Linked DNA regions of Homo sapiens: all the other regions are reported to be linked to region 1. Evidence: microRNA targets listed by miRTarBase, many of them from high-throughput screens and not tested one by one. Region 1 holds a microRNA gene; each other region holds the end of a gene's coding sequence.
What was found. The annotated mature microRNA hsa-miR-1909-5p reads UGAGUGCCGGUGCCUGCCCUG and lies in region 1 at 6,485-6,505, shown strand. An mRNA with a match to its seed (bases 2 to 7 or 8) in the 3' UTR can be bound and repressed. Matches are read on the target gene's strand: a 7mer-m8 pairs with bases 2 to 8, a 7mer-A1 pairs with bases 2 to 7 and ends in A, and an 8mer does both.

Region 1 (9,585 bases):
CCTCACGGCTGAGACCTTAGCCCCAGGGAGGGGAAATCATTGAGTTGGGCCTATCCCAGGACCCCACACGCTTCCCGTCTGTGTCTCCGCGCTCGGGTTGTCCTGTTGCTGATCTGTGGTGGGTGCTGAGCTGTCGCAGTGCCCTTGGGGCCCGCCGCCTGAAGGGAGTCTGGCGTCCCAAGTGCTGGCAGTGCCGCAGGGCGGGCTCATCTGGCTTGGAGGACTCCTGTGGCTGCCTGGGCTCGCCCCCAGCGTGCAGCCGAGGGAGTCTGGAGGTTCTCTGTCCGTTCCTGAAGAGCAAACCCTCCACTGCAAGAGGCGCGTGCCAGCCTGGCGGGCAGCCTGCTTCCTTGCTGGGCGGCCCGCGGTAGCATGAGCAGACTCATCCTGCCTCCCTTGCACCTTCCAGGGCCAGATGGCATTTCGAGGGATGTTGCTCTGAGACTAGGGCCAGATGTCCCTGCTCACAGCTCCCCTTCCTGGGTCGGTGCCGAGCCCCCAGTCCAGAAGCCCCCCTGCCACACAGACGTACATGCCCAGGTTGCAGCTGCCCGCGTGGCCAGCCCTCCGAAGCAGCCCCTGCAGGCCTGGCCTCCTCCCTCTGGTTTGTGACTTCATCAAAGGGCAAGGCAGAACACAGAGGCCGCAGGGCAGGGCAAAGCCAATGAGCAGGTGGGGGCACCCGAGACCCTTCGGTCCTCTGTCCGGGAGCCAGGGCCTTTCCCTCAGACATCGACGCCTTGGGCTTGGGGTCAGAACACGTGGCAGAGGCCTGGACCACCCCACCGGTGACGTGTCCTCAGCGGCCTCCGCAGCCTGACCTGTGTCCTCTGCCTCGATGGACTTGCCTGAAGGCAGCTAGAGCCTGATGCCATTGCGCAGCCCCAGCCCCTCACCCTGGCCCGGCCCCCTGCACGCGGAGATGCACGTGCTGCTGGCGCTGAGCGGCCGCGGCTGCCTGGTGCTCCGCCACGTGGTGATGGGCAGCCACTCGCCCTGTGCCCACACCCCCTGTGCCCCGCCAGCCCCCACAGGTGCCAAGAGGACCCTTGCGGCCAGCGGCAGCCAGTCCTCCAACGGCCCTGAGCCAGGTGGCCAGCAGCTGAAAACACGCACATTGTCGGGGATGGCGTCCAAGACTACCACCACCATCATCCCTAAGCGAATCGCCCACAGTCCATCCTTACAGGTAGCCCCTCCCATCTCGGCCAGGACCACCACCCCCAAGACCACGCCCTGAGGCCCGGCCACATGGGACCTGCGGAGGGCCAGCCTCGCCCCTGCCCTGCGGGCCTTCGTGCTCCACACCGCAGTACAGCCTTCACCTTCCCTCCCCATGCCTTGGTGTTTTTTTTTTTTTTTTGAGATGGAGTCTCGCTCTGTCGCCCAGGCTGGAGTGCAGTGGCACGATCTTGGCTCACTGCAAGCTCTGCTTCCTGGGTTCACGCCATTCTCTGGCCTCAGCCTCCTGAGTAGCTGGGACTACAGGCGCCCGCCACCACGCCTGGCTGTTTTTGTATTTTTAGTAGAAACGGGGTTTCACCATGTTAGCCAGGATGGTCTCGATCTTCTGACCTCGTGATCCACCCGCCTCGGCCTCCCAAAGTGCTGGGATTACAGGCGTGAGCCACCATGCCCGACCGCCCTGGCGGTGTTTTTTTGTTTTGTCTTGTTTTGTTTTTTTGGTTGGTTGGTGTTTTTTTTTTTTGTTTAGAGACAGGGTCTCTGTTGCCCAGGCTAGAGTGCAGGGGCGCAATCATGGCTCACTGCAACCTCGACCTCCTGGGCTCAAGTGATCCTTCCACCTCAGCCTCCTGAGTAGCTGGGACCACAAGCCGGTGTCATCACACCCCAGCTAATAATTTTGTTTTTTATTTTGTAGAGACAGGGTTTTGCCACGTTGTCCAGGCTGATCTTGAACTCTTGTCCTCAAGTGATCCTCCTGCCTCAGCCTCCCAAAGTGCTGGGATTATAGGCGTGAGCCACCACGCTTGGCCTTGTTTTGTTTTTAATTAATAGACTTTATGTTTTTTGAGCAACTTTAGGTTTCTAGGAAAATTGAGCAGAAAGTACAGCAAGTTCCCTTGTGCCCCCATGGCCTCAGTTTCCCATGACCTTAGTTCCGCTGCCCTCAGTTTCCCCTGCTGCTCCTGTCTTGCCTTGGCGTGTCTGTCCCTACTGCAGCCAGGCTGATCTGTCCCAGCGCACCTCACTCTTGCCTCCAGCCATGGGCACGGCCTCATCGCGTCTGCGTTCCCCGCTGGAGGCCTTGTGGAGGCCCTCACCCATGGCAGCTTTTGCCTTCCCTCTAGAGTTTAAAGAAACCCATTATCCCCAAAGAGTTTGGGGGCAAAGTCCCCACCGTCATCCGCCAGCGCTATCTCAACCTGTTCATCGAGGAGTGTCTCAAGTTCTGTACCTCCAACCAGGAGGCCATAGAGAAGGTGAGGTCCTGGAGTTCCTATCTGGCCGGTCGGGTGGGGACTAGGGGTCCAGGGTGGTCCCCAGACATCCCCCGGCCTCTCAGCCGCAGCTGTGACCCGGAGCTGCCTGGGAGAGATGCAAGTCCCCGACCCCATGGCGACCCCACCGCTGGGGCTCCCCGGCACCAGGCAGGCATGGCCTCAGCTGGGCACCGCCTGTCCCCCAGGCACTGAACGAGGAGAAGGTGGCCTATGACCGCAGCCCCAGCAAGAACATCTACCTGAATGTGGCCGTGAACACCCTCAAGAAGCTCAGGGGCCTGGCCCCCAGCGCTGTGCCCGGCCTCAGCAGTGAGTCCTGGCGGGTGGGCGGGGGAGGCTCAGGGTTGCTCTTGGGGTGGCAGCTGGGCTGGGACCCTCGCTGGGACCTTCACAGCCCTGAGCTCAGCCACAGTCTCAGACAAAAGGAAAGCGCGGTGCTGTGGGGGGGCTGCCTGCTGCCTGGTTCCCAGGCTTCTGTGTAGGACGGACCTGGCCCTGGTGTCCTCGCTGTCAGCCGCCTTCCTCCGCTGAGTGGGGTCTCCAAGCCGAGCCGAGGGGCCGCCTGCTAATGGAGCTGCGGCAGCTTCTTCAAAGCAGGAGGCCCAGGGCTGGGCGAGCTCCATGCATTAAGCTCTGGGGAGGAAGAAAGCGGAGACCTGGGCGTTTCATTGCAGCCTCTCCAGGCTGCATTAAGCTATCACCGGCCCCTGCCCCCGTCCCCGCCTGCATTAGCACTCGGAGGGGCCCTGGGTTGGCGTCGCAGGCTGGGTGGCCCATGAAGGCTCAAAGCCCTCGAAAGCCATTAGATCCCCCGTGCTGTTCTCCCCGCCCTTCCCCCTTCGCTTGAGGGGAGGGGACGAAGACTTTGGGTGTGGGGCCTCCGTGCAGCTCTGGGGCCTGCAGAGCTGGCGGCTGCCCTGCGTCCCTGGCTCACCGCATGTCTGCCTCTCCTGTTCGGGTCAGGCTGGAACCCGGGGTCAGTGGGGTGCTGTCCCAGAAAGGGGGAGTTGAGGCAGAGGTCTGAGGAGGGCAGGGTGGGTGGGAGAGCAGGCGGGGCAGGGGTCTGAGCCAGCTACTTCACACCCTCCTCCCCTCCCTCCCTTCCTTCCAGAAACCAGTGGCCGCAGGGTTGTGTCCCACGAGGTGGTGTTGGGGGGCAGGTTGGCCGCCAAGACCAGCTTCTCGCTCAGCCGTCCAAGCAGCCCCCGGGTGGAGGACCTGAAAGGTAAGGCCCTGCCCCTGCTCTGCCACACGGTGCTTCGTGGGCCTCTGCCGGCCCAGCCCCTGCTGTGCCACACGGTGCTTCGTGGGCCCCTGCCGGCCCAGCCGCCTTTCCCGGTGGTGTCTACCGCCCCGTGGGCCATCCCAGGCAGGGGCTGACCACTGTGCCTGTCCACAGGGGCTGCCCTGTACAGCCGCCTCAGGGAGTACCTGCTCACCCAGGACCAGCTCAAGGAGAACGGCTACCCCTTCCCGCACCCAGAGCGGCCCGGGGGCGCAATCATCTTCACAGCTGAGGAGAAGAGGCCCAAGGACTGTGAGTCGCTGGCCTGCGACGGCCTAGGTGGGCAGGTGCGGGATGTGGGCAAGGCCGGGCATGCGGGCCCCAGCGTGAGCCTCAGCTTCCACCTGGGTCCCCACCCACAGCTTCCTGCAGGACCTGCTGCCGCTGTGGCACCGAGTACCTCGTGTCCTCTTCAGGCCGCTGCATCCGGGACGAGGAGTGTTATTACCACTGGGGACGGCTGCGCCGGAACCGGGGTAAGGCCTTACCCGGGTCCTTCCCCTTCCCACCCATGGCCCCCGGAACCTGGGCCCTCCCTTGAGGCCCCCAGAACTGGGGTAAGGCTTTACCCAGGCCCTCCATCCCACTCAGGGTCCCTGGGCTGCACCGTCTTTGGCAGAGCCGGGGCTAGCCCTTGGCCTCATTTTCTCTCCACCTGTTCTTTATGCAAAAGTAAGACAAGAGCTTTCCCATGACAAGGTTCAAATGCCACCACCTGAAAGGCCCTGTGTCCCTGCCTTCCTGTGCCCTTGGTCCATGGAAATGTGGAGGTTGCTGGCCCCAGGAGCGGAGGGGCTTGTCCCACCCTTGGCCTGGTGGTTCTATTCAATCCCCCAGGCAACCACGCAGCCACGCTCAGGGCACATGGCCAGCCTTGCACAGCCCTGTGGCGGCCCCTAAAGCCATCGCCTCAGGGATACCTGGAGGGTGCTGCCCGGGGCAGCGCTGCCAAGAGGCCTCTGCAGAGGGCACTGGTCTCCCTGGATCCAGGCCTGGGCGTCCTGGCTGCCACACGACTGCCGGGGCCTGGTCTGCTTCCAGCTCCACCAAGAGGCTGAGGCCTCCTGTCCTCAGTCCTCACTCCCTAGTAGGGCTCGGTAGATGCAGGTGGTCAGTGCCCCGGGGGCTGTGGAGTGGGCCTGGCCGGGCCCTGACTGTGTGTCTGTGTCCCCTGCAGTGGCCGGAGGCTGGGAGACCCAGTACATGTGCTGCTCGGCTGCCGCCGGCTCTGTCGGCTGCCAAGTCGCAAAGGTGAGCCCTGGCGTCCCAGTCCCCTCTGCCTGTTCTCAACAGACTTCTGCCTCCCCATCGTTGGTGTGGGGTCTCGGGACACAGCACAGTCCTGGGCTCAGGGTCTGGGCCCCCGGGCAGCCTTTCTTGTGTTACCCAGAGAACGTAGCACCCGTAGGCCCCAGGCCCTGTCCCTGGCCACTTCCCATCCTGGGAAGCCGTCCTCCCTGTGTCTTCTTGGCAAGCCCCCTTCCCCACCTGCTCACCAGGGTCCCAACCAGTGAATGGGCGTGATGGATGGATAGGATGGTCCCGAAGGGCTCAGAGATGTGCTGCTGCTGCCACCCCCGCCCCCACTGCACCCCGAAGCTGCCCTCACCTGCCTTCTCCACCCCCAGCAACACGTGCAGGATGGCCGGAAGGAGCGCCTTGAGGGCTTCGTGAAGACCTTTGAGAAAGAGCTCTCAGGAGACACCCACCCGGGGATCTACGCCCTGGACTGCGAGATGGTGAGGCTGTTCTCTGCCCAGCGTCGGGTTCAGGATTGGGGAGGACCTGGCCTGGTGCGGCCGCCCCATCTGGCCCCATCTGGGCCTGGCTCACCGGCCAGCGCTCAGGGTTTCTCTCGCAGCACCGGTGCCTGTGGCTCCTGCCCTGGACCAACACCCCATACTTCCCAGCAGAGCCAAGCACACCGGGCACTGGGCCCCGGCTCTGCCTCTGAATGGGAGGCAGGAGGGCTTTGCGAAAGGGGGTTACTGAGGTCACACCCCACTCGGCCTCTCCTAGAAGTCCCACAGAGTCTCTGGTCACTGCCTCTGCCTGGAGGGGCTCTGGAGACTCAAAGGGGCAGGGAAGGGGAGGGAGGGAGGCCGGTGCCTGGGACACATCTGAGGTGCATCCCTTGCCCGCAGTCCTACACCACATATGGCCTGGAGCTGACGCGCGTCACGGTGGTCGACACGGACGTGCACGTGGTTTATGACACCTTCGTGAAGCCTGACAACGAGATCGTGGACTACAACACCAGGTGTGGCCAGTGCCCTCCACGAGCTGGGAGCCCTCCCAGCCGCCTCTCCCCAGGGACCCACCCTCCCCCGCCCCACCAGCCAGTGCTTCCAGGCTGAGCCCTGGTGCCCCTCCTGCCCGTTCCCCCAGGTTTTCGGGGGTGACGGAGGCTGACCTTGCCGACACAAGTGTCACGCTGCGTGACGTCCAGGCCGTTCTGCTGAGCATGTTCAGCGCTGACACCATCCTCATCGGACACAGCCTGGAGAGCGACCTCCTGGCCCTGAAGGTGCCCTGCCGGCCCGGGTCCCGCGCGGTTCTCCAGCAGGACCTGCGCAGGCCCCACGTGCGCTGATCTCTGCCGCTGCCCACAGGTCATCCACAGCACCGTGGTGGACACGTCTGTGCTCTTCCCCCACCGCCTGGGCCTCCCCTACAAGCGGTCCCTGCGGAACCTCATGGCCGACTACCTCAGACAGATCATCCAGGACAATGGTGAGTGCCGGTGCCTGCCCTGGGGCCGTCCCTGCGCAGGGGCCGGGTGCTCACCGCATCTGCCCCGCAGTGGATGGGCACAGCTCCAGCGAGGACGCCGGCGCCTGCATGCACCTGGTGATCTGGAAGGTTCGAGAAGACGCCAAGACCAAGCGATGACGCCTGCCCGCCTCCCACCCGCCTCTCCTGCCGTCCCGCTGGTCCTTAGCCCCATGCCTCTTCCAAAACAGTGCAATAAATCTCCGGTAACCCGTCCACCTGGCCGAGGCAGCCCAGAGCAGCGGGATGAGCTGGCGGCCAGAGAACGCCCAGCCCAGCCCACCCCCGCTCACGTCCTGCCGCACCCCTCCGCCGGTCCCCACCCTCTGCCCCCCAGCCCTCTGGCGTCTCTAGAAACTGCTGCTGATGGAGACCAGGACAGAGCCCGCCCCCACCCGGCCCGCAGCCCCTCCTGCCCCTCCTGCCAGGCCCTCCCTCCCGGGTGGTGGCCGGCACCTCTGCTCCTCACGTGGGTCGCGGGGCGGGCTTGTCCCAGGTTTGTTTGAGACAGTCTTTTTTTATTTTGTATTGTTATTTTTATTATTTTTAATTTAAACCTGATGACTTGCACAGCATCTTTCCCACCGGGAAGAGCGGGCCTGCTGCCTTCCCTCCTGCGGGGTGGGGGTGGGACAGACCCCAGTGGGGGCCAGGGCCACACTCAGCGCAGTGTGGGCTGGACCCGCCTCTGTGCTCCAGGGGCTGGCCGGTCTTCGGGGGCGCCGGCTTCCACCACTCGCCGCCCCACCCCTGCACTCCGTGACCTCTGAGAACCCAGCTGGCCCCTCGTTAGCCCCAGGGTCTGCCGTCTAGAGGGAGCCCACCGGCCTCCGGACACTGTCTTCCCGCTAGAGCCCCGTCCTCCTCTGCGGGGCTCTCCGGACCCCCTTCCCCCTCACCTCCAGGCAGGGACAGAATAAATGTTTGTATGGATTTTAGATTTTGTGGTGGTCTTGGTCTTGGTGCCTGGTGAGGCCTCTGCATGTGCCCCGGGGAGGCCACTGTCCCTGCAGCCGGGACTGATTCTCTTCCCATCAACGCAGAGAAAACAGAGCAGTGAAACTTTCCCTCACAAAAGCTGGCCCAGGGCTGGCTCCCCCAGGGCTGGGCCACACCTGCTGTGGGGTCCCAGTTCCAGCCCCAGATCATGGGCCACCATCCTGCAGCTTCTAGTGCCTCTCGGACAGTGGGTGGTGTCCCCAGCCCTGTGTGGAGCTGGGCCCTGTGCACAGAGCTGGCTTCCCTCTCTGCCCTGCCCAGAGATAGGGACTGCACACAGATGGTGAGAGGGGGTTAAAGAGACTGGGAGCTGCTGTGTGTTGCCCGTCAAAGGATGGAGTGCAGACACGGAAAGCTGCTCCGGCCCTTGCCAGGAAACGCCACACATTGTGTAGTGCACGCACGTCTCGGGCAACTGTGGTTGCATCGGGACCCCATTTGGAAATGGGAGGCCCAGGGGTGTTTAGGCCCCACTTTTTATTGACCTCAAGTAGAAAAAGTGATGAGCCTTGCGGGACAGGACCCAGCAGCTGGGGGCAGGTTGCCTGGAGTGGGTTTCCTGCCACCCTGGTCTTGGGCTTCTGCTGAAGGGCAAGGCCAAGGGCACAGGTCCCGGGATGAGGACGTGGGGGCCCTCCCCAGAGGACTCCATCCCAAGGCTCCCTTCCCGGTTCTGGGCTCTGCATCTCTCCAGGGCCCTCCTGGGGGACCGTGGTTAGGCCAGGCCCTTCCACCCTCGAGGGCTGTTCTTGTGACTAGTGACTCTCCCACCTCTTCTGTAAAGGAGTTGTTTTCTTTTTCTTCTTTATTTTTGAGACACAGTCTCGCTTTGTCACCCAGTCTCAGCTGGCTGCAACCTCTGTCTGCCGAGTAGCTGGGATTATGGCTGTGCCATCACACCTGGCTAATTTCGTATTTTTAGTAGAGATGGGGTTTCACCACGTTGGCCAAGCTGGTCTCGAACTCCTGACCTCAAGTGATCCACCTGCCTCGGCCTCCCAAAGCGTTGGGATTACAGGCATGAGCCACTGTGCCCGGCTCTGTGTTCTAAATAAATGGCGCAGGCGTGTATGCGCTCTGTTTCTGTGCATTCCCATGTGATGTCTGCCTCCCCCTTCCCAGAACGCACCTGGTGCCTCAGGACATAGCCCACGGGGGGTCCCAAGGCTGGCCAGCCCTGGCTTCAGCCCCCAGGGACTCCCTTCAGCTTGTGAAGCCACCTGTTGCCACTGGAGGCTTCAGGGCCTTTGCACAAGTGCCCTGGGCAAGCTCCTGCCCCCAGATAGTGCCCCCTGCGAAGGCTGGGGTGGGGGAATCTGGTCCTCACAGCTGCACCCAACCAGGTCTCTTCTAAAGTTTATTAGAACAGTGTGTTCAAACTCCCAGCCCCGGCTTTTTTTCGTAACCACTGAGCAAGCAAGCAAGCACAGGGGAAGTGTTGAAGGAATGAAAGGAGAGAAGTCAAACACAGTGGCCTGCCTGCCTGCTTGTGGTCCCAGCTACTCTGGAGGCTGAGGCAGGAGGATCGCTTGAGCCCAGGAGGTGGAGGCTGCAGTGAGCTCTGATCGCACCACTGCACTCCAGCCCGGGTGACACAGTGAGACTCTGTCTCCAAAAAAAGAGAGGTTCCCTGGCAGCCTCCAGGGCCAAGCAGGCTTCCAATTTGGGCTTCCAAAGAAAGAGGGTTTGTGATCACCGAGAGCCCTCAGGTGGTTGCCGCTTTGATGGGGGAGGTGGCTTCCCTATCCCCCTCCACCCATGTTTGCCTCTCCCTTTGGGCCCTCACCCCAGGTAGCCTCACTCTTGGGGGCATTTCATCTTCAGCAGCCCCTCCGCACACACTTTCTGACCCTGGCTCCAGGCCCTATCGCTGGCCTGGACCCGCCCTAGCCTCGTCGCTGAACTCACCCCTGCCACTTCTTCAGTAAGGATCCCTGAGCCCCTGCCACCTGCTGGAAAGAACCCTGCGGGCTTCCTCTTGGCCTTAGGGTGGTCTCAATGGCTATAACCGCCTCTCCCCAGCCTGGTGCTCAGCCCTGCATCTGCGCCTAGGAGGCGCTCGTT
Region 2 (11,031 bases), not on the chromosome of region 1:
AACATTAGCTATTGGAAGGAGCTTCTCTGGTGCCAGGACCTGAGGTATTAGCTTCTCTAGTTCTGGGTGGAAAAGACCCCAGATTCTGGATTTTTGTCATATACTTGGTAACATCATCTGGATTAAGTGCTTACTATACAAAACGATAACAAATTTTGTTGGTGTGAAATCCTACTGGGTTCAATCTGGAGACCGAGAGCAGAAAAAAAAGAACCCCACTGTGTGGCTTTCAGAGCCACCATATTCCAGCCTGCCCGTCTCTCCAGACTCACCTCCACCTACCTGCTTCACCCGCACGGGAAACGGCAAGGCAGAGGGGCAAAGCCATGCAGCAGGTGGAAGGCGAGGTGGAGGCAGATCAGGAAAGCAGCCAGTTGAAGCAGAGAGAGGTCAACAGGGTCTGGGGAGCTTCTCAGGAGGTTTGTGGACCCAGGGAAAGGAGCCAGGTTCCAGAGCAACCTCCAAGGCAAAGGCCTCTGTAAGTTGGTTGTCCTGACAGCCGAGAGGTGTCTTTGGCCAGTCAGCCAGTGGATCAGTTGCGGGAACTGCTCAGAAACTGAGGTGCTAGCAGTTAGTGAGGACACAGCGTAAGTTGTTTGTTCTGTGAAAGTTGAACAGCTCCACTAAGCAGAGGCCTTGAAGAGTGGCCACAGCCCTGGAATAGAGCACAGAGCCTCACCTAGAGGCGTGGGGAGGTTTGCAACTGCCCCTTCCCAGCCATAGCTTAGGACCCATAGTCTAGTTCACATAGACCCTGGGCTCCAACCACCCACTCACCAGGAATGATCCCACCCCAGGAACAATGCGTTCTCACATCCCACCCCACCTGGACAAAGGCCAGGAAATCATGTTCTGACCAAAAGATACAACAACAAAAACAACAACAACAAAAAACGCCTATTGCAATTGAATCCACGCTAAAATGCCTAAAAAGCTCAAGAGAAGCGGGTAGTTGGCAGAGAACCTAGAGTAGGGGGTGCAACCAGCAGGCCCAAGGGAGGGAGGCTGCATTTGGGTCCAGCAGTGTTTGGGTCACCAAGAAGGGCCTTCTAGGTGGAGCAGAGAGAGCTCACCAGGCCAGAATAGTGCAAAGGGGGTCAGCCCTCAGTGCCACTTACCAGCGGAGTAACCCTGGGCAAGTTAGCCAGCCTCACTAAGCCTCCTCATCTTCATCTTTCCAGGCCCGAGGAGATCTAGCCTCTGCCTCCCACCCCAGCACCCCCTCATCAGACACACGGAGCGCCACTGTCTGGACAGGCTGAATTGGTCTTCGGGTCCCTAATTTCTCATACGCCATTCCCTCTGCCTAGAACACTTTCTCACCTCCCCTTGATGTGACCCCATATCACCCTTCGAGGTGAATTGGATCGGATGCCATCTCCTCCAGGAGGGGTGGGGTCGTGCCTCCTGTGAGGTCCCAGTGCCCCTGAGTGTCTGTGCCCGTCTGTTTCCCCGTCCCTCTCTCTAAGCCCGGAGGCTTACTGCGGGTAAGGACGGCGGGACAGGACCTTAACCCCTGGGACGAACACCAGCTCCGCAAAGGACTCCGCACCCGGCGCCGCCCACGGGGTGCGGGTCCCAGGAGGACCAGCAGAGAGGAGCATAGGAGAGCAAAGGAGATCAGTGACCCATGGCTTCCCCGGTGGCGCGGAACAGCCCGGAGCCGCCTGTGATTTGCATACCCATGGTGCACCACGAAAAGATACCCTCAAGATGCTTGCACTCCCTCTGTGCGCGCATTTCTGCACTGTTTTAGAGCATGATGCCTCTTACACGCATCTGTGTGCATAAACTACATATAGGGAGTGCGTACCACGCAGGCATCCAACAACCATAAGTGTGTTAAGTGTTAGTTCTCCCTGCGAGGTTCGAAGCGGAAGTCACGAATATACTCGGGTTTCTCTTCAAAGCGCATAAATCTTTCGCCTTTTACTAAAGATTTCCGTGGAGAGAAAGTTGTGAGTTTTTATTCAATTTTTTGAGGCCTCTTATTTCCTGAGGCTACATTTTTAAGTATTAAAAGTTAGGCAACTACAACCAAGGAACTTGGTCATTTGTTATTTGTACCAAATGTTCACAAACTTATTCGGGCGTGGTGGTGCCTGTTTGCAATCCCACCTATTGGAGAAGCTGGGGCGGGAGAGTCTCTTGACTCTAGAAGACGGAGGTTGTAGTGATCCGAGATCGCGCCACTGCCCTCTAGTCAGAGTGGCAGAGACTCCTGGGGCGGGAGAGTCTCTTGACTCTAGAAGACGGAGGTTGTAGTGATCCGAGATCGCGCCACTGCCCTCTAGTCAGAGTGACAGAGATTCAGTGTAAAACAAAAAAAAATCAGAAGTTTGCGTGACACCTTGTTTTGAGCTACATTTGGGGTTTATTGGCTTCTGCAGTGTGCAGTAAGACTGGCTTCTATTGTTTATTTCTTGCGTTTTTGTTGCATTTCGTTGCAGATTTAAGAGATAAACAGTGGAAGGCGCTTTCAAGTCGTCCGGTCATTAATTAAGCCTTATTGTGGCTAGAGGTTCAGGGGCGGTATATCGCGCCAACCAAACTCCTTGTTCTATTCCCAGAGACAGTAGCTGTTAGCGGTTTGGTGTGGCTCTTCCAGACTGATTTTTTTTTCCCAACTCGATTGCGAATCCAAACACAGTTTATGTGGTGAAGAGACAAGGTTCCTTCTCCTATGGAGCTTTTTTCTTTTGAGATGGAGTCTCACTTTGTCACCCAGGCTGGAGTGCAGTGGCTCAATCTCGGCTCACTACAACCTCCGCCTCCCGGGTTCAAGCGATTCTCCTGCCTCAGCCTGCGGAGTACCTGGGACTACAGGCGCCCGCCACCACACCCGACTAATTTTTGTATTTTTAGTAGAGACGGGGTTTCACCGTGTTGGTGAGGATGGTCTCGATCTCCTGACCTCGTGATCCGCCTGCCTCAGCCTCCCAAAGTGCTGGGATTACAGGTGTGAGCCACCACACCTGGCCCTTTTCTTTCTTTCTTTCTTTTTTTTGTTTTTTGTTTGTTTGTTTGTTTGTTTGTTTGTTTTTGAGAGGGAGTTTCGCTCTTGTTGCCCAGGCTGGAGTGCAGTGGCGCGATCTCGGCTCACTGCAACCTCCACCTCCCGGGTTCAAGCGATTCTCCTCCTCAGCATCTGGGATTACAGGCGCACCACCACGCCCGGCTAATTTTTGTGTTTTTAGTAGAGACAGAGTTTCACCATGTTGGCCAGGCTGGTCTCAAACTCCTGACCCCAGGTAATCCGCCTGCCTCGGCCTTCCAAAGTGTTGGGATTACAGGCAAAAGCCAACGTGCCCGGCCCCTATGGAGCTTTTCTAATAGAACCAAACACAAAACAAATTGAATAAATAATATAAATCCCAGATAAATAATATCTCAGTGAGAAGTGCCCTGTAGAAAGAGCATTTTGATAGAATGGTCTACCTCCTTCCTATTCCCTCTCCATAAGGGAGCTCACCTACTTCCATGGCTTTAAGTAAATGCCATCTGATAGCTAGTGACCCCCCAGTTTACAGCCATCAGCTAGTCCTGTTGACTCCCTTCCATCAGCTGGTCCTGTTGATACCTTCAAAGCGTACGCTTCATCCAACCACATTTTACCACCTCCACTGCTGCCATCCTGGTCCAAGATCTCTTGCTGGATAATTGCAATAGCCCCTAACTGTTCTCCCTAGACCACTCTTCTACCTCGCTCTTGCCCTTCTCAATTCCAGTCCTCCACATAACGGCCAAATTCTTTTTTTTTTTTTTCTGAGAGGGTCTTCCTGGAGTGCAGTGGCTGGAGTGCAGTGGCACAATCTCAGGCTGGAGTGCAGTGGCGCAATCTGAGTTCACTGCAACCTCCACCTCCCAGATCCAAGCAATTCTCCCACCTCAGCCTCCCAAGTAGCTGGGACTGCAGGCGCGTGCCACCACACTGGCTAATTTTTGTATTTTTTGTAGAGACGGGATTTCGCCATGTTGCCCGAACTGGTATCAAACTCCCAGATTCAAGTGATTCGCCCACCTCACCCTCCCAAAGTGCTGGGATTACAGGCAGGAACCACCATGCCCAGCCCAAATTATTCTTTTAAACTAAATCTGATCACACATCACTGTCCTGCACAAAACCCTCCAATGCCTTCCCCCATGACACATAGCTCCCTGCAGATCTCTTGTCAAATGTTATCTCATCAGAGGTCTACAATCAGTGCCCTGTACGAAATAGTCCCACTCCCACCACATAGCTATCTCTTCAACCTGTTTTGCTTTTCCTCATAGCACAAACTACTCCCTGAATAGAGCATACATTTCTTTACTTGTTTACTGCATGTTTCTCCTCTTAGAATGTTAGCTCCATGAGGCAAAGACTTGACTTGACTTGTTGTCTGATGTACTTATTCCATGACCGTAAATCAATGTCTAGTGTGTGAGCACTCAATGAATAGTTGTGGAACAAATGAATGAATATGTTTTCTAAACACATATACAGAATTTAATCTGTCCCACTACAATTCTAAGTATTTTATGAAATTATTTTCATCTTCCTAAAAACTCTACTAAATAGGTTCCATTATCTCCATTTTATAAATAAGGAAGCTGAGGCAAAGAAAGGTTAATCACAAAGAAAATATGTGGCGGAGCTGGGATTCAAATGCAAGCATTCTGGCTCCAGGAGACACGCTCTTAATCACTATGCTACCTTTTTTCTTTTAACAAGAGGAATCATGCTGTAATTGGTCTATTCTGTGCTTTTTTCACCAAAGATCATGGATTTTTTAAATATTACAGGAATATACCATAGTTAATATAACCAGTCCTCTGGTAATGGACGTATAGATGATTTTCAATTTCCACTATCCAATCAATGCTGCCATGTACTACTGAGTAAGCACATTTTCTGTCGAGAGATAATGCTAAATAACTATCTTTAATCCCTGTGCAATATATATACACACACATCTATGTGTATATATAATATACACACACATCTATGTGTATATATAATATACACACACATCTATGTGTATATATAATATACACACACATCTATGTGTATATATAATATACACACACATCTATGTGTATATATAATATACACACACATCTATGTGTATATATAATATACACACACATCTATGTGTATATATAATATACACACACATCTATGTGTATATATAATATACACACACATCTATGTGTATATATAATATACACACACATCTATGTGTATATATAATATACACACACATCTATGTGTATATATAATATACACACACATCTATGTGTATATATATACACACACATCTATGTGTATATATAATATATACACACATCTATGTGTATATATAATATACACACATCTATGTGTATATATAATATACTCACATCTATGTGTATATATAATATACACACACATCTATGTGTATATATAATATACACACACATCTATGTGTATATATAATATACACACACATCTATGTGTATATATAATATACACACACATCTATGTGTGTGTGTGTGTGTGTGTGTGTATATATATATATACATATATATATATATATTTTTTTTTTTTTTTTTGAGACAGAGTCTCACTCTGTTGCCTAGGCTGAGTGCAGTAGCACAATCTCAGCTCACTGCAACCTCCGCCTCCCAGATTCAAGCAATTCTCGTGCCTCAGCCTCCCAAGTAGCTGGGATTACGGGCATGTGCCACCACACCTGGCTAGTTTTTTGTATTTTAGAGACAGGGTTTTGCCATGTTGCCCAGGCTGATCCCGAACTCCTGAGCTCAGGCGAACCACCCACCTCGGCCTCGCAAAGTTCTAGGATTACAGGCGTGAGCCACGGTGCCTGGCCTCCTGTACAATATATTTTTGTATGAAGTCCCTGAGATAGAAATCTAACTTTATTTTCTTCTAAATAGTCAACTGTCTCTCATTTTAGATTGACAGTATCTTGCTTTGCAGCTCCTTTAAAACTCTTCATGGAATAAAGTGGCATTTAAATGAGGAAATAGGCTGGGTGTGGTGGTGCTTCATGCCTGTAATCCCAGCACTTTGGGAGGACGGAGTGGGACCATTGCTTGAGCCCAGGAGTTTGAGAACAGCCCGGGCAACGTAGGGAGACCTCATCTCTACAAAAAGAAAAAAAAAAGTTAGCCGAATGTGATGGAACATGCCTGTAGTCCCAGCTATTCAGCAGGCTGAAGTGGGAAGATCACTTGAGCCTGGGAGGCTGAGGCTGCAGTGAGCCGAGATTGCACCACTGCACTCCAGCCTGGGTGAGAATAAGGTTGTGTCATAAATAAATAAATAAAGTCATTTACTTAACATTTACATAGCACTGATTATCTGACAGAGACTGAGGAAGCAGAAACGAGTAAGACACCACTCCAGGCCCCAGGGATCTTTCTTGAGGGAGATTCACATCCTCGGGAAAACAAGATGTATAGTGAATGAAGGAGGTAGCAGAGGGGTCTGCAGTAACTGAGTAAGGTATGGAGCTAGAGGACTAATACCTCCAGGATAAATGAATTTATACAAAGATTGTATTTGAGAGAAGAGGTGAGGAACCACTCACTAGTAGTTTTGAGTGCCCTGAAAGTGAAATAGATTGAATTTTGTCCTGGAGGTCAATGGGATGTTCCAGGACTTAAGCCCCATAGGACTGACAATCAAAAACAGGTCTGGCTGCACTGTGGGAAATGGATTGAGGGGGCGCTGGAGTGAAGGCAGGAAGGCTGTGAGACGTGTCAGACAGGACAGGTTGAACCTGGGGCTGAGAGAACTGAACCAACTGGAAAGGTCTCTTAAGGTCTCTTACAAGGTAAAAAGAGACCTAAGGCAGGTGTGAAGAGCGATAAGGCAAGGATGAGATCCAGGTTTCTGGCGTGGGTGTCCACGGAAATGAGAAACACGATGGGGGCAGAGCTGGGGAAAAGCTGGGGAGATCAATTTCTCGCCGAGCCTGTGGTGTCTGAGGGGCATTCAGGGAGCGATCTCCAGGGGGGCAGGTCTGGAATGAAAGAAGGAGCTGAGGCCGGGCATGGTGGCGCACACCTGTAATCCCAGCACTTTGGGAGGCCGAGGCTGGCGGATCACATGAAGTCAGGAGTTCGAGACCAACCTGGCCAACATGGTGAAACCCCCGTCTCTACTAAAAATACAACAATTAGCCGGGCGTTGTGGTGCATGTCTGTAATCCCAGCTACTCAGGAGGCTGAGGCACGAGAATCGCTTGAACCCGGGAGGCGGAGTTTGAAGTGAGCCGAAATCGCACCACTACACTCCAGCCTCGACGACAGAGCAAGACTCTGTCTCAAAAAAAAAAAAAAAAAGGCCGAGGCGGGCGGATCACAAGGTCAGGAGATCGAGACCATCCTGGCTAATACGGTGAAACTCCGTCTCTACTAAAAATTCAAAAAAATTAGCCGGGCGTGGTGATGGGCGCCTGTAGTACCAGCTACTCCGGAGGCTGAGGCAGGAGAACGGCGTGAACCCGGGAGGCGGAGCTTGCAGTGAGCCGAGATGGCACCACTGCCCTCCGGCCTGGGCGAGAGTGCGAGACTCCGTCTCAAAAAAAAGAGAGAGGAGAGAAAGAAAGAAAGAAAGAAAGAGATAGAGAAAGAGAAAGAAAGAAGGAAGGAAGGAAGGAAGGAAGGAAAGAGAAAGAAAGAAAAAGAAAGAAAGAAAGAAAGAAAGAAAGAAAGAAAGAAAGAAAGAAAGAAAGAAAGAAAGAAAGAGAAAGAAAAAGAAAAGAAAGAGGGAGCTGAGCTGAACAGATAGATATGTGGGAGTCATCAGAATAGACTAGTAGACGACAATGCCCAGGGGCAGGGCGTAGAGTCAGGGTGTGGAACGAAGGAAATCCTCGTTTTCGAGTTTCACCCCCTCAGGGAGGCCCAGCCCAAGCCCTGCCCGGCCCGACCCCACCTCGCCCACACGGGCTTGATCCCGCACAAGGGGCTGCGCGTGGCAGACAACGGTTCTTCCGGCGCCCGGCTCACTGGGCACGCTGGGAACGGAAGCCCGCTCCGAACGCCGAGCACTTCGGGAGCTGTAGTTTGGGGCAGGCTCAGCTGGGCGGGTCGAGGGCTCCCTGCGAGTCCCGGCGTTGGATCATTTGAAGGACAGGTCCAGAAAGCGGTGATGCTCCCGGGGCAGGGTGCCTCTCCGGCGGCGACACGGGGCGCCCCGGGCCTCATCCCCTCTCCGCAGGGCATGGCATTTCCACGCCTCCACAATCTGCTCCACCTGCAGAGCAAGGCCAGTTAGTGCGCAGTCCCGCGGTGGCCCCTCGCCCCGAGGACCGTGGGCCGGGCTGCTCCTGCCCCCTCCCAGCGCCCTGTACCCCCTGCTGAGTGGAGCTGGGCCGGTTCCCCGCGTCCCCACCGGGATGAGTGGTTCCTGCCGGTTCTGCTCTTCCAGGGCGCTCAGCTCCGCCGGGGCCAGCAAGGCTAGTCTCAGCTCTTTCACCACCGGGGCCGCCACCTCAGCCACCGGCCGCTCCAGCACCGCCTGCAAACGCCAGCCCTGAGTCGGGCACCTGTCCTGCCGCCCGCTCACCAGTCTCGTGGCCAGCACCTCCTTCCGTGCCCTTGCGCTCCCCCAGCCCCACTCACCGCGCCCACGCGCGCCCAGCTTCGGGCCGCGCGGACCAGTTCAGCCTCGTCCACGCAGAGCTTGTCGCTGCGGAGCAGGGGCAGCAGCGCGGCCGCCGACAGCTCCAGGAAGCCTCGGGTCCGGAGGGCCTCCTGCGAGCCGGCAAATGGGTCAGGGAGGAGCAGAATGCGGTGCGTAGGGTGAGGAGTATGAAGGGAGCAGTACCTGGCTGTGGGCCTCTATGAAAGCCACGCAGCGCTCCTGCAGCTGCCCCAGGCCAAAGGTTACGGCCACCTGCGAGCAGAATGAGGGAGATCAGGTTGGAGACTGGAGAGGCCGTAGCCCAGCCTGCTCACTGGGACCCACCACTGCAAGCCTGACCCTAGCCCTAGCTGGGGAGGCTGACAGGGCCCTCAGCCCTCCAGGAAACTAGACCCAATGAAAGCCTGCTACACACACACACACACACACACACACACACACACACACACACACACACACACGTGGACTCACTCTACAACCTGCTCTTCCCTACAGGAGACCACGCCATGGCCTTCAAACCCCACCTGGGACCTAGGCTTGATTTTTTTTGAGGCAGAGTCTCACTCTGTTGCCCAGGCTGGAGTGTGCAGTGGCGCAATCTCGGCTCACTGCAACCTCTGCCTCCCGGGTTCAAGCGATTCTCCTGCCTCAGCCTCCAGAGTAGCTGGGAGCATGCCACCACACCAGGCTAATTTTCTGTATTTTTAATAGAGACAGGGTTTCACCGTGTTAGCCAGGATGGTCTCGATCTCCTGACCTCTTGATCCGCCCGCCTCGGCCTCCAAAAGTGCTGAAATTACAGGTGTGAGCCGTTGTGCCTGACCCAGCTTGACTTCTAAAGTCTACAGCCACCCTTTCCCTACCCCAAGTCAAGCTGAGAACCATTCCCCAGCCCTGACAGACAGAAGACCAGCAAAGACCTCCAGCCCCTTCAACACCTGCTCCTGCACCTGACCCTGCTGATACACCCAGGATCCCACAGATCTAGGCACAGAATTCATCCTATAAACATCCTTGGAGCACCCCCACCACCACCATGTACCCAAGTTATTTCCAGGCCAGACACAGCAGGCCCAGGCTCCCAGGTGCTGGGAGCCCATTTCCACACACAGAGCCAGACTCCTACCATGCCTGTCCAGCAGCACCCACCTGCAGGGCCTCACAAACCAAGTCCACATCCAGCACCTTCACCACAAACTGCAGGCACAGCTGGGAACAGAAATGAATGTGGGTTGGGTGGCGGTGTCCCTGCTCCAAGACACTAGTTCCACCCCAGAAGCAGTGAGCAGGCTTGGAGCGGTGAGTCACCCAGCAGCCCCAGACCCATCCTGACCCAGGCCAGGGGAGGCAGGGAATTGCTAGAGCCTGAGACAGCAGGCTTACAGGAACTGGAGACTAGCAAAACCAAGCCCAGCCACCCACCTTCTAGTACATTCGCCACTAATCAAAACCAGATAAAGGCCATGCAAAATTCTCCCCTTCTTTCAGGATGCTTATCTTCCTCCACTTGTTCCCTTCCTGACTCAAGGATACTTCTATTTTTAGCAGAAACTTGAATTTCATCCGTGACATCTCTCATCTCTTGACTGCTGCACTAGCCTCCTGACTGGACTAGCGAGTCCTCTCCACCTCTTCCAATCCCTTCTCCCCTGAGTTTCCAATTCTTCACTCCCTTATCGGAAACCTTCAGTGAATCTCCACTGCCCTCTGCTTAAAAGAAGTCCAAAAGCTTGAGGGCCCTACATGAACCAGGCCCTGGCGTCCTCTGCAGTCTCGTCTTGCCCTCTCCTCACAGTTCAGACACACCAAATGTCTCACTAGCTCCTTTGGTGCCTCTGTGACTAGAATACCATCTTCCCACTTCCCCTAGGAACAAAATCCTATTTGTTCTACCAGATCGAACACAAATGTTTCCTCCTCTGGGAAGTCTTCTCCTCTCCCTAGTGGCGGGACTGGAGAGTCCCCCCATACAGTCTCGGCACCATTCACGCTTCTCTATCACACTTTCTTTTTTTTTTTTTTTTTTTGAGGGCAAGTCTTGCTCTGTCACCCAGGCTGGAATGCAGTGGCACGATTTCAGCTCACTGCAACCTCTGCCTCCCAGGTTCAAGCGATTCTTGTGCCTCAGCCTCTCAAGTAGCTGCAATTAACAGGTGTGTGCCACCATGCCTGGCTAATTTTTGTGCTTTTAGTAGAGATGGGGTGTCACCATGTTGCCCAGGCTGGTCTGGAACTTCTGGGCTCAAGTGATCCACCTGCTTCAGCTTCCCAAAGTGCTGGGATTACAGGCGTGAGCCACTGCGCCCGGCCTCTATCACACTTCTTATGCCACCCAGGTAAGCATTTTCATGTGTCTGTCTCCTCTCCCTCTCTGGAGAACACGGATCAAGGCT
Region 3 (11,031 bases), not on the chromosome of region 1:
AGCATTTTGGGAGGCCAAGGCGGGTGGGTCACCTGAGGTCAGGAGTTTGAGACCAGCCTAGCCAATATGTTGAAATTCCATCTCTACTAAAAAAAAAAAAAAAAAAAAAATACAAAAAGTAGCCGGGTGTGGTGGCAGGTACCTGTAATCCCAGCTACTTGGGAGGCTGAGGCAGGAGAATCACTTGAACTCAGGAGGTGGAGGTTGCAGTGAGCCGAGATCGCGCCACTGCACTCCAGCCTGGGCGAGAGAGTGAGACTCGGTCTCAAAACAAACCAACAAAAAAGGACATGGAAGTGCAGAAGGGCCCCCCGCTGGCTGGATCCGGGGTGGTGTGTGAAGAGAATGCTATCTCCTCGTCTCCACCTCCCCGGCCCCCACTCTTGCCACGGCCCCCCTGCACAGCCTTCCCCAAGGCTCCCTGACCCACTCCTCGGCCCAGTTTCTATGCCGGGGGCCTGGCCCTTGGCCCCTGACACGAACTGGGCTCTGGAATGAGTCCTTCCACCCCACACACCCACTGCAGCAGGCTCTTCCCTAGACAACGTGAACGGGTGGGGACAGAATGAAGTGCAGGGAAGGCCTCGTGCAGGTGCCCCACGGGGGGACTGAGACTGAGCGGCCACCTGCACACCCCGAGTCCTGGGCACCTTGCGCCTGCTGTTTCCACACCCACTTCAGCAAAGCACGAAGCAGAGGTCTGCTCCACGGGCCTCCCGGGGTTTCAGAGGACCCCTGCACGGTGCCCTGTATGCAGTGGAGCCAAATAAATGTAAACCTTCAAGGCACTAGGCGCATGGGTGAATGTAGGATGCAGGGGCTCAGGAGGCTGTGAGATGTTCCCCAAACACTCCAGATCATTCTTGCTCCGCAAACCAAGCGCTGTTGTGCCAGTGTAAGACTTGAGGGCTGTAGGCTGCCTGAGCCCTCCCCATGCCTTCCCCCGAGAGCACGCCACCCAGCGCCGGGGGTGTGCCTGCTCCTCTGGGCTTCAGCTGGGAACCCCGAGGCCTTCGCCTCAGGGCATAGCTGCCAGGAGGCAATGGAACGAGGCTGAGGGTGCTGGTGGGGACCATGCTGTCATTCAGTTGAGGTCAAGGCACTGCTCAGAGTGGATGCCCAGTTCCATGGAGGGACCTGCCCAGGCCTGGAGCTCTGGAAACCAGGGGGGCCGATGCACAGCCAGGAGCACGTGAGGAGCCACTGTATGGGAGATGCTGCCCTCTCCTAGGGGCTGAACCATGTCCCTCCCACAAAATTCATCTGCTGAAGTCCTAGCCCCAGGTCCTCAGTGTGATCTTATTTGGAGGTAGCATCTTTGTAAAGGTAACTAAATTAAAATGAGGGTCGCTAGGGTCTTATATTAGGCCCTAGCCCAATACAAGAAGAGGAAATGTGGACAGAGACACATAGAGGGATGATGATGGGAAGAGTGGGGGAAAGATGACCGCCAAAGAGCCAGGGAGCGTGGTGCCAGAAGGAGCCCGCCCTGGGGACATGGCTCTGACGTCAGCCCCCAGGACTGTGGGAGGACACACTTCTGCTGTTGAAGCGCCAGGTCTCTGCTGCTTTTTGACACAGCCCTGGCCGGCTCAGGTGCCTTCTCTGCTGCATTCTCTGCTCAGGCTACGGGACCCCTTCCTGGAAGATCCCGGGGCTGACAGACTTTCTCGATGGTGAGAGAGGGGACAGGAGAGGGTCCCTGGACCCAAGTAGCATGATCAGGATGAGGGAGGTCTGATTCTGAAGATGGTACCCAGCATGGGACCATCTGGGATCCTGCTTTTATTAAGTTCTTATATTTCTAAATAACTTGGCTTTTATAGAGTTACCTGCTGAATTGATTCATGTATAATACAGATTTATTTTTTATCTTACTACTTGTTCACAATGTCTTTCCCACTTCACGCTTTGCTCTTCACCTCGCCGCCTCTGTACTAAAGCGTGCCTTGCTGTCCGACCTGCGGCTGCTTGGCACCATCATTTTTTTTTTTTTTTAGACAGAATCTGGCTCTGTCTGCCAGGCTGGAGTGCAGTGGCGTGATCTCGGCTCGCTGCAACCTCTGCCTCCCGGGTTCAAGCGATTCTCCTGCCTCAGCCTCCCGAGTAGCTGGGATTACAGGTGCCCGCCACCACGCCTAGCTAATTTTTGTATTTTTAATAGAGACGTGGTTTCACCATGTTGGCCAGGCTGGTCTCAATCTCCTGACCTCGTGATCCGCCCACCTTGGCCTCCCAGAGCGCTGGGATTACAGGTGTGAGCCACTGAGCCCAGCCGGCATCACTTTATTCGAAGCCTTATCACCGGCCCGTAATCACGCTTCTTTAAATCGCATGCAACGTGTTTTCAGACCAGTCGGGTGGTCTTTTAACGAGGAGTGCAGCCCGCATCCGATTCCCGCTCTGCGGGTTCCTGGTCCTCCCCATTCTTCCTCCTGTGGCTCTTTTGCAGTTGCCTGGGTTTGCAGCTGGCTCAGGCTTCTCTCCCGGTTTCCACCGAGGGCTCGCTCCTGCTCAGGGTCCCCGCGTGGTCCCGGTGTTCCGATGCCACCAGGCGGCGCTGTTCCCTTGCATCCTCAACATCAGATTCCCAGTCCTGCAGGACAGGAACCGGAACGCCACCCTCCACCAGGGACTGGGTGCACCTTCTCCCCACCGCGCCTGAGCCCCCGGGGGCTTCTGGCCACTTACACCCCCAGGCCTAGGAGGTCAGCCGTGGGATGCCTCTCTATCGCATGCTCCTGATTCCACACTCAAACCTCACTTTCCGGTGGCTCTCACGTCGCCTTGAATGTCTCACGGAGGTGAGTAGCCCTCCTTCCTCTTCCTCCTGCCGGCTCTGTGCTAAGTCCATGCTCGTCTGCTCAGAGGAGGGTCCGGAGGTCATCTTCCCTTCATCCTTGCCAACCTGGACATGTCTTTCTTTCTCTGTGACCCATGCATTCTATCTGCAGAGGCAGTGAGAGAGTGGCTGAGAACACAGACCCATCCCAAAGCCAGGTTTTCTGGTTTCCTTTTTTTTTTTTTTTTTTTTTTTTTCTTGAGACGGAGTCTCGCTCTGTCGCCCAGGCTGGAGGGCAGTGGCGCCATCTCGCCTCACTGCAAGCTCTGCCTCCTGGGTTCACACTGTTCTCCTGCCTCAGCCTCCCAAGTAGCTGGGACTACAGGCGCCCGCCACCACGCCCGGCTAATTTTTTGTATTTTTTTTTAGTAGAGACGGGGTTTCACTGTGTTAGCCAGGATGGTCTTGATCTCCTGACCTCGTGATCAGCCCGCCTTGGCCTCCCAACGTGCTGGGATTACAGGCGTGAGCCACCGCACCTGGCCCGGTTTTCTGGTTTCTAACCCTGGTTGTGTGATGGTGCATAAGTCACTTGACCTGTCTGTGCTTGTGAGATGGAGATAATTCTAATATGTTTCTCCTTAAGGAGAGGAAACAAATTAAACAAGCTCAGACAACACTGAAGCTGTGCCTGGATAGGGAAAACTGTCCATGGGCATCGGCTATTATTATATCACTGATTATTATTATTATCCATGCTGGGGTATAGAGTGTCAGGGCAGAGCCCTTTCCTCTGAATGCTTTGTAAACATCAGTCCGTCTTCTTTTATTTATTTATTTATTTATTTTGGAGACAGGGTCTCACTATGTTGCCCAGGCTGGAGTGCAGTGGCACAATCTCGGCTCACTGCAACCTCTGCCTCATGGTTTCAAGTGATTCTCCTGCCTCAGCCTCCCGAGTGTAGGTGGGATTACAGGTGCCTGCCACCATGCCCGGCTAATTTTTTGTATTTTATATTTTTTAGTAGAGATGGGGTTTCTCCATGTTAGCCAGGCTGGTCTCGAACTCCTGACCTCAAGTGATCTGCCCACCTCAGCCTCCCAAAATGTAGGGATTACAGGCGTGAGCCATCGCGCCCGGCCTTTCTTCTATTATATTTTATTTCCCTATTATTTGCATATGGGGCTACTGGATCTGTTCTCAAAATCTCTTTTCCCTCATAACTTCCTCGAGGCAGTATTTTTGCTTTACGTTTCAGGTAATTCCTCTATTTGTTCCTCCCCACATGAATTCAGAACTCAGAGACACGAGCCTCTCCTCTGATTCAACTCGTAAATGGGTTTTTCCTTTACAAATAATGATTTCTAGTTGTAGAACTTGTTCATGCTGCTGTTGAACGTATCCATCTGTCTGTCCATCGTCGTGTTTTAAGAGGCAGCCCCTCTCCCCGAGACCAGTCCCCTGGGGACCCACTCCTCAGGGTCTCAGCTGTGGCCACACGGCCCGCTGCCCAGGTGCAGTTTCTGGAGGGGCTGTGGCTCTTCACGGCACCTTGTTCTTCTCAGCTGCCAGGAATATTAAAAGCCAATCCTCGGAGCTTACATATAGCCCTAGTGGGTTATATCCCAGAACCAAAGGAACTTGAGGAAACAACTGGAGCTGTTTGCAGTGATTGCACTGTGGGTAGCGGACTAGCACTGGGCTGTGAGACTGTCGTGTGTGCTTTGGATCAAGCAGGCACAGTTGTGTGACTTTCTACTTTGTCCTTCCCCTCCTTTGCCCTGAAATCTGGGATTCTCTGCACAGGAGAAGGTCATTCTGGTTTGGAATTGGAAGTAGCAACAGGAACCCTCTGTGTTTTTTATTTTTGTTTTTGTTTTTGAGATAGAGTCTTGGTCTGTCACCCAGGCTGTAGTCCAATGGTGTGATCTCAGCTCACTGCAACCTCCACCTTCTGGGTTCAAGCCATTCTCCTGCCTCAGCCACCAGAGTAGCCTGCCACCTTGCCCAGCTATTTTTTTTTTTTTTTTTTTTTTTTTGCATTTTTAGTAGAGACAGGGTTTCACCATATTGGCCAGGCTGGTCTTGAACTCCTGACCTCAGGTGATCCACCGGCCTCGGCCTCCCAAAATGCTGGGATTACAGGTGTGAGCCACCACGCCTGGCCTTGTGTTTTCCCTTTAAAAACAATTGGATATCTAGCTCTGTCCACGGACGGGCCTGGAAGCAGTGAGCACCCCTGGAGCAACAGGCAGCCCTGGTGCACAGGCAGCGTTTTCCCAATGCCATGTCCACACTAGCGTCCACCCGAACCACCGCCAGAGAGGCTCTCCAAATGAAAACGAGGTTCGTTCAGGAGTCGGGCATTGCGTGCAAATACGTATGCTGGAGTCCGCTGTGCGTTTTCAGGGAGGTAAAAGCACAGAGGCTTTAATGGCAAAGTGAAGAGAATCACAGAATTGTTTTGGGATATTTATCCTTGCCACAGGAATCGAGAACACGGGTGGTAACAGTCTGAGGTTGGGCAGGTGTCCTCACAGAAGTGTTTTTTGTGTGAGGTTGTGATGGACTTTGCTCACGATTGTGGTGTTTGCTGTCTTCTGTGATGGTTTTATGGGGAATACCGTCAGGGCTGTTCCCAGCTCTATTGGTTGGGGTTTTGTTTTGTTTTGTTTAAGACAAGTGTCTCCATTTTGATTCTGACAGCTTTCACACTGGAAAGCAGGGACTGAGGAAAGTGAGGGGGGCAGCAGGGCCCAGCCAGGGGATCCTGCCAGAGGCAAGGACGTCACTAAGGACTGTGCAGGTTCTAGCAAAATGACAAGGGGCCGGGCGTGGTGGCTCACTCCTGTAATCCCAGCATTTTGGGAGGCCAAGGCGGGTGGGTCACCTGAGGTCAGGAGTTTGAGACCAGCCTAGCCAATATGTTGAAATTCCATCTCTACTAAAAAAAAAAAAAAAAAAATACAAAAAGTAGCCGGGTGTGGTGGCAGGTACCTGTAATCCCAGCTACTTGGGAGGCTGAGGCAGGAGAATCACTTGAACTCAGGAGGTGGAGGTTGCAGTGAGCCGAGATCGCGCCACTGCACTCCAGCCTGGGCGAGAGAGTGAGACTCGGTCTCAAAACAAACCAACAAAAAAGGACATGGAAGTGCAGAAGGGCCCCCCGCTGGCTGGATCCGGGGTGGTGTGTGAAGAGAATGCTATCTCCTCGTCTCCACCTCCCCGGCCCCCACTCTTGCCACGGCCCCCCTGCACAGCCTTCCCCAAGGCTCCCTGACCCACTCCTCGGCCCAGTTTCTATGCCGGGGGCCTGGCCCTTGGCCCCTGACACGAACTGGGCTCTGGAATGAGTCCTTCCACCCCACACACCCACTGCAGCAGGCTCTTCCCTAGACAGCGTGAACGGGTGGGGACAGAATGAAGTGCAGGGAAGGCCTCGTGCAGGTGCCCCACGGGGGGACTGAGACTGAGCGGCCACCTGCACACCCCGAGTCCTGGGCACCTTGCGCCTGCTGTTTCCACACCCACTTCAGCAAAGCACGAAGCAGAGGTCTGCTCCACGGGCCTCCCGGGATTTCAGAGGACCCCTGCACGGTGCCCTGTATGCAGTGGAGCCAAATAAATGTAAACTTACAAGTCACTAGGCGCATGGGTGAATGTAGGATGCAGGGGCTCAGGAGGCTGTGAGATGTTCCCCAAACACTCCAGATCATTCTTGCTCCGCAAACCAAGCGCTGTTGTGCCAGTGTAAGACTTGAGGGCTGTAGGCTGCCTGAGCCCTCCCCATGCCTTCCCCCGAGAGCACGCCACCCAGCGCCGGGGGTGTGCCTGCTCCTCTGGGCTTCAGCTGGGAACCCCGAGGCCTTCGCCTCAGGGCATAGCTGCCAGGAGGCAATGGAACGAGGCTGAGGGTGCTGGTGGGGACCATGCTGTCATTCAGTTGAGGTCAAGGCACTGCTCAGAGTGGATGCCCAGTTCCATGGAGGGACCTGCCCAGGCCTGGAGCTCTGGAAACCAGGGGGGCCGATGGCACAGCCAGGAGCATGTGAGGAGCCACTGTATGGGAGATGCTGCCCTCTCCTAGGGGCTGAACCATGTCCCTCCCACAAAATTCATCTGCTGAAGTCCTAGCCCCAGGTCCTCAGTGTGATCTTATTTGGAGGTAGCATCTTTGTAAAGGTAACTAAATTAAAATGAGGGTCGCTAGGGTCTTATATTAGGCCCTAGCCCAATACAAGAAGAGGAAATGTGGACAGAGACACATAGAGGGATGATGATGGGAAGAGTGGGGGAAAGATGACCGCCAAAGAGCCAGGGAGCGTGGTGCCAGAAGGAGCCCGCCCTGGGGACATGGCTCTGACGTCAGCCCCCAGGACTGTGGGAGGACACACTTCTGCTGTTGAAGCGCCAGGTCTCTGCTGCTTTTTGACACAGCCCTGGCCGGCTCAGGTGCCTTCTCTGCTGCATTCTCTGCTCAGGCTACGGGACCCCTTCCTGGAAGATCCCGGGGCTGACAGACTTTCTCGATGGTGAGAGAGGGGACAGGAGAGGGTCCCTGGACCCAAGTAGCATGATCAGGATGAGGGAGGTCCCAGGAATATCCACGCCCATGGAGCCAGGCCCCCCTGGAAGCCTGTGAGCCTGAGTGTGGTCCCCCCGATCATGCCATGAGGCCCCAGGCTCTGGCCAGCTCTCCCGCCCTTGAGCTCTTGACCCTACCTTGGGGTCACCTCCTGCCCACCCCCATCCTCCCATTCAGTGCCCCTCCTTCTCTACACTCCAGGACACATGAGCTTCAGCTGCAGGATCCGGAGCTCAGCTCCTACAGATGCTCACACCCTTGGCCCACCTCAGTTTCCCATCTGAAGTCAGTTCAAGGCCTGGTGGTCTGGGAAAAGCCAGCTAGTCCACCTGGCCCAGTACAGATAGGCTGGAGTCTCGGGCCTGCAATCCGGACCTGTGGGCAGCAGGATAGCTGCCCGGGATTGCCCTGTGGGGCCCAGGCCACAGCTGCCCTCAGGCAACAAGGGTCAGTCCCCAGCCTTCCCTGGAAAGTGCCTTACACAGATCCTCTCATTCCAGTGCAAAGTGGATCAAAACACTTTAATAAAATGGCAGCGGCTTTGTGGGATGTCTGTGGCAGACAAAATCAAGAGCCAGGAGCCCGGGATGCGGAGATGGGCCTCGGTCTCCACATCCTGGCGGGTGCTGGGGCCGGGGCTAGTACTTGAGCAGCCAGCGTGGCCTGTGGGTGCTCAGCGATGTGAAGTAGGACCACCACCAGGGCTTACTCCCGTCGGCCGAGGGCTGCCTGCGCGCCCGGAGCGGGTCGGGCTCCGTGGCCTCCCCCAAAGAGCTGGCACCTCCCAGTGGGTCGTGGGGCCCAGTCCTCCGCAGCCCATGAATAAAGTTCTTGGGTCCCATCCCCAGAGGTTGCAGAATGAAGTCCACACGGCCAGCCCTCTTCATCCGGGCGGGGATGATGACTTTCTTGATGACTTTGGCGTAGCCAGGGGCTTGGGCAATGACAATGTGGATACCTGGGGGCAGCAGTCTCCAGTAGTCACCATCTGGGGCTGTGGACAAATAGATTAAAAATGATTCTCACGAGGACTGCAGACCCAGCCACGGGGTGATGGGTGATGGATATGAGTGGGGAGAGGTTAGCATGGGAGGCAGGCGCCAAATGTGCACTTGCCTCTGTGTGGGCCTGGAACGTCCTTCCCACCCCTTTTCTCTGTCAAACTCTTATTTATACCTCAAAACCCTGCTTAGGCACCCCTCTTCTCTGAAACCTTCGATGACCACTCCCACCCCCCATACCCACCCCACAGTTAGCAAAAGTCCCCCTCTTCTCTGGACCACATCTCTGCCAGGTAACACATATCACAGCATACCGTCATTTTTCATCGGCTGTGAAATTCCTGTAAGGACAGCCAGAGCCCGCACAGGGCTGGACACCCCAGCTATCAACAGGGTATGAACTTTGGGATAGAAACAAACAGGCTTAGGGGTGGAGGTGGCTCTCCCCGGCAATGTTGGAGGAGGCGGCATTTTCCTAGGAATACAGAGCATGCATCCACCATCATTCAGTAGCTACGGCTGGGCAAGCTCTTCCCTCACCAAATGCTGTAAGGAGACGCAGACCCTGGTTCCTGCCCACCCTCCCCGACCCAGCCAGCCTGGGGAGGAATGGAGCCATCCTGCTGAGGGCTGGGCACACTGTGAGTGCCTGAGGGTGCCGGCTGCCACGGTGTGGCATTTCCTTGGCAGACGTGGTCCCCAGGGGACAGCCAGGGACGTGCTCACCTGTGGTGATGTCGTGGCGAATGCCTTTGACTGAGATCCGGGCGTTTTTGACTGGCTTGCCGAATTTATCTGTCACCACACCTTTGATGCCCCGGTGCACCTGAAGAGACCAAGGGGAGGCCAGGGAGATGGCGTGAGCTCTCCTGCTGAGCGTGGAGGCCGTCAGCTCGTTCCCCACATGCTCCTCAGAGCTTGGTATCTAGGGGGAACTACCCCACAGAGCCCCACTCTGCCAGCCCTCGCTCTGCCATCTTTAACGAGTCAGTCACTCCCCTCTCTGGGCCTCAGTTTCCTCCCTGGCAATTGACCCGAGCACGTTCTGGGCTTTTGAATGACCCTGCATCTCACCCGAGGCCTGGCTGACTCCATCTCTATGGGCATTGAGCAGAGAACCCTTTCCTGCCACTCTTCTGCCTGATCGGCATTCCTTCCCTGCCTTCCCAGCCCCAGCGGGACTCCCTGGGTCCCTCTGAGCTGAGGCTCCTGAAGGTGGCGTGGGCATGGGAGAGGACGAGGACAGTGCTCGGACCCTCGCTCGAGCAGCGCGGTTTCTTCATCGTACACGTGTATAACACGCCCTGCCTTCTTACTGCTTGCCTGGCCTTGGCACGAACTGGTCCTGAACACACAAGCTCCCTGCACGCCCACAGCTCCAACGTTTTCACCCTGGAAAGCCCTCCCAAAGCTGCCTGATCCTGTCCACATTTCTTGTAAAACAGTTGATGACAAACCACCCACACGGCCCCTGCTCTAGTCAGCAGAAAACAACGTGGGGTCCAAGGATGCTGAAGGTCACGCTGAGCAGGACCAGGATGCCTGTGGGGAGAGGAGTCCGTCCAGCGAGGCTGCCCCCTGCCCGGGCCCTGCACGGGGCTCAGCAGCAACAGATTCTCAAGGGAAAGGGCTCCCAGCCAGGCCCTGCTGTGCTTCCAGAAACTATGAAAATGATCTTGCTCCTCTTAAAATCAGGATAAAAGCAAAACATTTTAGGTTGGAGAGACTGTTTTCCTATATATTCATCTTTATGTCGACTGTTGTATAATTTTAAATACTTTATATGGAGGGAGGAGTCCACAGAAGCAAAGAGCCTGGGCCCACAGGGTCAGGAAGCAGCCCTGGCAACAGGAGCATCCTCCTTCCCTGGCCCCGGGACATTAGCCCGAGAGGGGCTGGTTTTTCTCTGGGCCAGAAAATCAGCTCTGCCGTAGTGACTGTTCACTTCAGACAAACCTTTGCTTCTGGGTGCCTCAGTTTCCTCAGCTGTAAAATGTTCATGAGGCCAAAGCAGCTCTGGCTTCTGCAGGACCGATGATTTCAGCAAGCATGTGAACTCTAATCCCACCGCGGCTGACCCCCGCCGTGACCGATGCAGAAACCGACTGGCCTGACACACGCGGCCCGTGAGCTCAGACCCTGTGGCACCTAACTGCTGTTCCAGGCTCACGCCCAGCTGTCAGTGGTGCAGGTGGCTGAAAGAGGGGAGTGGGCACCCAGTCTAGCTCCACAAAGCACATGCTAGCACTTATCTCTGTGCCACAGGGATCTCGGGAACCCAGAGCACATGGAATCCATGATGAGCACATCAAGGGGTCCCAGCCCTCCTGACGCGATGGAGAGGGACTGACAGCCACTGCCCCCTGCCCTCTGGGGCTCGTGACCCCCACCCTGGATGCTCTTGTCCACACTTCGCTGCTTAATGGAACCGCACTCCTGAAACAATGTCTCATGGACTCGCATTTAGCGGGAGGGAGAGCATAAAAAGTAAGGTTTTCCTGCATGAGAGGTGATGAAGAGAAACTGGACAGCTCGAGAAGCCACCATGCCCCTCAGCCACCCCACCCTGTGGCTCCTCCTCACCCCCAGACAGCATCTGAGCCTTCTCTGCTAAGAATACCCTCACCAGCCCCTCACCGGGCCGATTCCTTCCCTCCCTTCA

Region 2: the mRNA of BTBD19 is a reported target of hsa-miR-1909-5p. Seed matches in the 3' UTR shown: 8mer at 6,585-6,592.
Region 3: the mRNA of CPZ is a reported target of hsa-miR-1909-5p. The part of its 3' UTR that is shown has no 7-base or 8-base seed match.

The regions. Positions count from the first base shown.
Region 1 is chr19:1,813,123-1,822,707 of GRCh38, reverse strand. MIR1909 (microRNA 1909) reads left to right here and starts at 6,470; the gene lies at 6,470-6,549. REXO1 (RNA exonuclease 1 homolog) reads left to right here. Exons shown (of 16, transcript NM_020695.4): 5 at 1,026-1,189; 6 at 2,313-2,444; 7 at 2,651-2,774; 8 at 3,577-3,690; 9 at 3,865-4,002; 10 at 4,113-4,226; 11 at 4,928-5,001; 12 at 5,379-5,489; 13 at 5,895-6,010; 14 at 6,139-6,277; 15 at 6,363-6,483; 16 at 6,554-7,460. The coding sequence ends at 6,642. LOC100288123 (a long non-coding RNA gene) reads right to left here and starts at 619. Exons shown (of 4, transcript NR_152847.1): 1 at 16-619.
Region 2 is chr1:44,810,855-44,821,885 of GRCh38, reverse strand. BTBD19 (BTB domain containing 19) reads right to left here. Exons shown (of 8, transcript NM_001136537.3): 4 at 9,788-9,847; 5 at 8,822-8,890; 6 at 8,617-8,748; 7 at 8,387-8,512; 8 at 6,301-8,248. The coding sequence ends at 8,114. LOC107984952 (a long non-coding RNA gene) reads right to left here and starts at 1,407. Exons shown (of 2, transcript XR_001738036.3): 1 at 1,324-1,407; 2 at 1-655. It also overlaps a transcript of PTCH2 not described here and the pseudogene RNU5E-6P. RefSeq lists enhancers at 1-159, 1,474-2,130, 2,137-2,186, 2,217-2,316, 2,131-2,787 and 1 more and silencers at 1,507-2,226, 7,898-7,967.
Region 3 is chr4:8,616,593-8,627,623 of GRCh38, reverse strand. It overlaps CPZ (carboxypeptidase Z), which reads right to left. Exons shown (of 11, transcript NM_001014447.3): 10 at 9,096-9,195; 11 at 7,872-8,362. The coding sequence ends at 8,007. LOC124900659 (a long non-coding RNA gene) reads left to right here and starts at 2,455. Exons shown (of 3, transcript XR_007058014.1): 1 at 2,455-2,804. RefSeq lists a silencer at 10,653-10,846.